Homo sapiens: one gene and its partner. The protein of the gene in region 1 purifies or fractionates together with the protein of each later gene. This does not show direct contact. Each region holds a gene or a part of one and is shown in the gene's direction. Other genes may lie near its edges.

What was found.
Region 2: the proteins of SYNGR4 (region 1) and GULP1 purify together in Homo sapiens (affinity purification with mass spectrometry; one large-scale study listed by BioGRID and IntAct). This does not show direct contact.

The regions. Positions count from the first base shown.
Region 1 is NC_000019.10:48,374,207-48,377,044, forward strand, and holds the end of SYNGR4 (synaptogyrin-4), read left to right. Parts: intron 1-1,406; coding exon 1,407-1,546; intron 1,547-1,878; coding exon 1,879-2,112; 3' UTR 2,113-2,171; downstream 2,172-2,838.
Region 2 is NC_000002.12:188,571,363-188,575,189, forward strand, and holds part of GULP1 (PTB domain-containing engulfment adapter protein 1), read left to right. Parts: intron 1-3,827. UniProt on the Homo sapiens protein: May function as an adapter protein. Required for efficient phagocytosis of apoptotic cells. Modulates cellular glycosphingolipid and cholesterol transport. May play a role in the internalization and endosomal trafficking of various LRP1 ligands, such as PSAP.

The DNA.
Region 1 (2,838 bases):
AGCTGGGATTACAGGCGCACACCACCACACCCGGCTAATTATTTTTTGTATTTTAGTAGAGACGGGGTTTCAGTGTGTTAGCCAGGATGGTCTCGATCTCCTGACCTGGTGATCCACCCACCTCTGCCTCCCAAAGTGCTGGGATTACAGGCGTGAGCCACCACGCCCAGCCAAAGTCTTGCCTCCTAACCACTGCCAAACACTCCCGATGGAGCCTGGCATAAGCAAGCACAAAATGTGTGTCCTTCTTTGGGGCCTGACCTCCTTCCTCTCAGTCTGTTTGATCTCAACTCCTCCCCACCCTGCCGCTCCTCCTCCCTACTGGGCCAGTCCCAGTGACTTAGGGCCAAGGGAGCCTTAGAAGGTCATCGAATCTAGTGCTGTGCAGGAGAACTCCCTGTGAGGGTGGAAATGTTCTGTCCCTGCGCCTTCTCATGCAGGAGCCACTGACCACCCGTGGCTATTAAGCACTTGAAATGCAGCTGCTGGCCGGGGACGGTGGCTCACACCTGGAATCCCAGCACTTTGGGAGGCCAAGGCAGGTGGATAACTTGAGGCCAGAAGTTTGAGACCAGCCTGGCCAACATGGCGAAACCCTGTCTCCACTAAAAATACAAAAATTAGCTGGGCAGGGAGGCGAGTGCCTGTAGTCCCAGCTACTCGGGAGGCTGAGGCAGGAGAATCGCTTGAACCCGGGAGGCAGAGCTTGCACTGAGCTGAGATTGCGCCATGGCACCCCAGCCTCGGCAACAGAGCGAGACTCTGTCTCAATAACAACAACAACAAAAAAAGAAATGTGGCCAGTGCAGCTGAGAAACATTTTTTTTTTTTTTTTTTGAGACAGAGTTGCGCTCTGTCGCCCAGGCTGGAGTGCAGAGGCGCAATATCAGCTCACTGTAACCTCCGCCTCCCAGGTTCAAGCGATTCTCCTGCCTCAGCCTCCTGAGTAGCTGGGACTACAGGTGCCCGCCACCGTGCTGGGCTAATTTTTGTTTTTTCAGTAGAGACGGGGTTTCGCCATGTTGCCCGGGCTGGTCTCGAACACCTGGCCTCGAGTGATCCACTTGCCTCAGCTTCCCAAAGTGCTGGGATTACAGGCGTTAGCCACCTCGCCTAGCCTAAAATCCTGTGTTAATGAATAGAAATTTAAACCGCTGCATGAGGCCGGCGGCTCCTGTATTAGACAGCGCAACTCTACTCCAGCAGCTCACTTTAGGGAAGGCTAGGAGGGACTGGGGAATGACTTGTGGGAGATGTGTCAACATAGAAGCTAATAAAAAAAGTATTTTTCAATACCTCGTGGAAGTTCGTGCAGCAAGACCACCAGCCCCATCCTTCCCATGCCTCAGCAGCCCTGCCTGAGTGAGCTTTCCCCCTGCCCCTTTTCTCTCCCTGTGACGCCACAGTTCTCTGGGCAGTTGTCTGGTTCATGGGTTTCTGCTTCCTGGCCAACCAATGGCAGCATTCGCCGCCCAAAGAGTTCCTCCTGGGGAGCAGCAGTGCCCAGGCAGCCATCGCCTTCACCTTCTTCTCCATCCTTGTCTGGGTGAGGACAAGCCCCTCCACCACCCCTCCCTAGGAGGGCACCCTCTGCAGGGTGGGGTTGAAAGGGCTAGAACATTCCTGCTCTCACTTAGCTCCCCTGGGGGTCAGGGGTCGGGGGTTCCCCCAGGACTCCACTGGTCCCTTCCAGGTGCCGCTTCCTCTGAGCAGCCACAGCCCAGCATCAGGGCCTGTGCTTTGGCCTAGGGCTCCTGGGCAGTGAGCAGTCCAAACACCGGTATCTTTTGTCTCCTTCCCAGGCCAGTCCCCAGCCCAGTCCCTCTCCTGACCTGCCCAGCCCAAGTCAGCCTTCAGCACGCGCTTTTCTGCCCACAGATATTCCAGGCCTACCTGGCATTCCAGGACCTCCGAAATGATGCTCCAGTCCCTTACAAGCGCTTCCTGGATGAGGGTGGCATGGTGCTGACCACCCTCCCCTTGCCCTCTGCCAACAGCCCTGTGAACATGCCCACCACTGGCCCCAACAGCCTGAGTTATGCTAGCTCTGCCCTGTCCCCCTGTCTGACCGCTCCAAAGTCCCCCCGGCTTGCTATGATGCCTGACAACTAAATATCCTTATCCAAATCAATAAAGAGAGAATCCTCCCTCCAGAAGGGTTTCTAAAAACAGCCCTCAGTCCTTCTCATGTCTGTTCCACTCTGGTTGCTTGAGTGGCGAGGGTGGGTAAGAATCCCACAAGGTCACCGCTGGGGTCTCTGCACTGGGTCACATTTCCATACCATCTCCTGGAACCATCACTGGGGCACCACCTTGATAGTGACGGATGGGAGGTGGTGAGAGGCGGGAAGCACTTTTTTTTTTTTTTTTTTTTTTTTTTGAGACAGAGTCTCGCTGTGTCGCCCAGGCTGGAGTGCAGTGGTGCAATCTTGGCTCACTGCAACCTCTGCCTTCCAGGTTCAAGCAATTCTTCTGCCTCAGCCTCCCTAGTAGCTGGCATTACAGGTGCGCACCTGTAATGCCCACCACCACGCCTGGCTAATTTTTGTATTTTCAGTACAGACGGGGTTTCACCATGTTGGTCAGGCTGGTGTCGAACTCCTGACCTTGTGATCCTCCCACCTCGGCCTCCCAAAGTGCTGAGATTACAGGCCTGAGCCACCGTGCCCGGCCAGGAAGCACTTTCTTCAGGCCTGTTACACACTAAGTCCTGTCAAGTCACTACTCCTTGAGTCCCCACACTGGCCAGGGGAGGGAGGCACAAGGAGCCTCCTCTTACAGTTGAGGAAACCAAAGTTCAGAGAGAAAATGCTTCCACCCGTGGAGAGAGCACCAAGA
Region 2 (3,827 bases), on another chromosome or scaffold:
AACTTGGCACACTCTGGAAATGGGTCAAAAAATGATTTTTCCTGTAAACTCACATTTTTCCACCTCCCATTTGAAAGAGTGAGTATTTCCATTGCTTGGCAGATGGTTTGTGCCAGTAGGGCTCCTATGGCCTTGATGAGAGAGGTTGGGACTGAGGTACCAATGTATCTATGCTGGAGCATCCTCTTCAGGTTCTGGTTTTATTCTGATATTCCTTCTTATTTTTTCTTGTCACTGTCTGCTGCTCACCAGGATTATGATTTTTTTCTTGCCTCTCTCGCTGCTAGGGACAGAACATCAGTTCAAACTCATTATTCAACCTTCCATCCCAAGATGGAACACACATCCTCTTGGGTTTTGTTGAAATTCATATTGTAAGCCATGTTGCGAAATATGCTAGGAGAATAAGAATAAATGTACTTCATTTATGTGAAGGGAAGTAACTTTTTCAAGGAGTTTTGATAACGTAGTTGTTTCTGGAATTCATCACATATGAAGAGTAGCTTTGCTTTCATTTTTGTGTTGACAAAGGAGTAAAATAAGCTCCATCACCTTCTTGGATGCAAATCCAAACCTGGTCATTGTGTAACCTCTTTATCTGAGGAAGAACATTTGAGAGGAGCAAAGAGGTTTCAAACATATTAATAAAACTGCAGCCTACCTTTTTTATCTTCCCAAAGCAGACACTGCTCTGAGAAGAAGGTGGGTCAGGATTATTAATGTGCATTGGTGATCTCATAGGGTTACTGAGTCAGCTTCAGAAATGACAAAGGACAGGAGGAATGACAAGATGACCCTTGCTTCAGTGTCTTTGACCATTTGGCTGAAATAGCCATTTCAAGTGGAAAGCATGCAAGTTGGTATATAAATGAAACATAGCCTATTCATAAGTATAATTCATTTATTTAGCAATTCTCATTAGTAGAGCCAGTTATATATAAAGAGTAAAAATAATGAAATAGCTATGTTTTAAAATGAATTAGCACTCCTGAGGTTACATCATTTAACAATTATTTTAGGCATTGTGTTCATCTCAGCCTGGATTTATCTAAATAAAATGCTTCAAAAACTACAACTAAGAGGTTGAATTTAAAAACAAATCACTTTCTTTAAATCACGGTCTTACACTGAGTTCATATATATGTAGAAAATTTATTGTATCCTTGATCATTATGGAAATAACAAATTATAACTTTGCAATCTACTTATAGTCTTTTGTCATGTAATGTTGTTGTCTACACTTTTTCTTTAACTTTAAAAATTATTTGTCACATGGCTTTTTAGCTCTTAAAATCTTATCATATGATTTTTTAAATTGTTGATATGCTGGAAGATATACATCTTCATTAAGATAGAATCTGGAGGACATTATACTAAGTGAAATAAGCCATGCACAGAAAGACAAATATCACGTGATGTCACTCATATGTGGAATCCAAGAAAGTCAAACTCATAGAAGCAGAGAGTAGACTAGTGGTTGCTGGGGGCTGGGGCAGAGTTGTGGAGAAAGGGTCTAGAAGATGATCAAAGGATGCAACATTTTAATTAGGAGAAATAAGTTCAAGAGATCTCTTGTACAACATGGTGATTATAGTTAATAACAAGGTATTATATACTTGAAAATTGCCAAGAGTAGTTTTAATTGTTCTCACAACAAATATGTGAAAATAGAATTTATTTGATTTTTAGAAGAAAGTGAACTCAAGAGCATTTTAAAATTGCTAAAATTTAAATGTAAAATTAAATGCTAAAATGTAAAATGTAAATTAATGAGATATCTAACCAATTCAAATGGTTTAAAAAACATTGTTACAGCATTTGCTAATGTGTTTCCTATTAAAAAACATTTTTGCCTTTCATTTCAAATTTTAGTAATGTAGCTATGAAATAAACTCGTAGAACACTTAAGTACAGCTTATTTATCTCATATCTATTCAAATGAGCTCCCAAATTCCTGATATTAAAATAAAACAAAAATAGTTACCTGCAATTATTTTTGAAGATTTATTAATGATTCAGATTATTGAATTTGAAAAACAGACAATGCAAATTGCAAATAATAAAATGTGAATTTAAAATATTTAATAGCTTACCATGTGTCTGCAATAAAGCAAATTTCTGTTAAGTTAGAAATGTTTTACATCTGTTCTTTCTTATGAAATTTGAACATCAGTTTTACAGGACACACAGCAGGAACACAAAGTACCTCACAGAGTGCCCCCATGGCTAGCAAAGTAAATGTTTAATGAGTTTATAACCCTGGAAATAGGACTCTGTGGGTTTTATGTGTTTGTTTTGAGCTCAGAGGACTGAGGATTAGAGTGCTCCAAAATGAGTAAGTTCTCATCAGTTTATTCAAAGGATTAGAGGCAGTGATCTACACATTCATTAAAGAAGCATTGAAGTAAATTATGAATCCCGTGATGCATATTGAATTACAACATAGGTGGGTATGGTGTATGCAATTAATTTAGCATCTGATGAGTTTTTAGTGGTGAGAGGAGCCCCTAACACAGAAAACTCTTCACAACTGACCAGCCCAAGACAGGTCTTGATCCCATTGGAAGCCAAATTTTTCAAGTCACAGAAAGGTGACACTTTTGTCAAAAATCTCTAATTGAGGTGTAGTTCTTTATAAATGATTTAATGCTATAATTTGGTTCACAAATATATACTTATAAGCACAATAATGTTCTAAAATATCTGGATATGCTGGTCTAACACAATATAGTTCACACTAAGCAATTGCTAGTCAAATAAAAGACATATTTAATCTTAGCTTTAGTATAGTCTCTTTGGGGAAAGGGAAAGAAAAAAAGTAGGAATGGAATTTTGGGAGTTGTGGAATTAAAAGTAAAGTGAAAATAAAAATAATGTAAATCACTATTATAGATATTATTTTATTTTCAGTTTATGATGAAGTAGAAGATGAAGCCAGATGTGGCAAGCAACAGAAACATTCTTGATAAAATTTGATTAGGCTGGGCATGGTGGCTCATGCCTATAGTCATAGCACTTTGGGAGGCAGAGGTAGGCTGATAGCTTGAGTCCAGGAGTTGGAGACCAGCCTAGGCAACATGGCAAAGCCCCATTTCTACCAAAAATACAAAAATTAGCTGGGCATGATGGTGCATGCCTGTAGTCTCAGCTACTTGGGAGGTTGAGGTGGAAAGATTGCTTGAGCCGGGGAGGTGGAGGCTATGGTAAGCCTGGGAGGTCAAGGTTGCAATGAGCCGTGATCATGCCACTATATTCCAGCCTGGGTCACAGAGTAAGACCCTGTCTCAAAAACAAACAAACAAACAACAACAACAACAAAACTTGGCTAGATAACTAAAAAATGACAAGCCATCTTCTCTAACAAGAGGTCCAAAGTTAAAGTTGAATTTCCGTAATACAAGACAATGATTCAAATCTACCAAATCGTCTAATAATATATTACAGTCTTATTGATGTTGATATCCTTATTCTATGTTAAATCATAAATTTAAAATGTGAGGCCCAATGCAGTAGAATGATCTACATGGACACCTTTGTATTTTAAAGAGTCTCTGTTTAGGTGAGAACATACGTGCATGTTTCTACTTTCCTCAGAGACACTCTAAGGGAAGGTTGCTATTTCTTAGAAAGTTTGTCAGTCACTTATATGTTATATACATGAACATGAATTGGTCATACTGATGGATTTTGAATTGCAAACTAAATAATTTTAGGTTGAAGCCTTGAATAAAAATATTCAAGACTTCTAAAAAGTTCCCTCAAGGTTTTATGGTGTACATTTTAGTTTTGGTTTTGGTCTTCCTAGTCCCACTGCTTCATCACTGGGA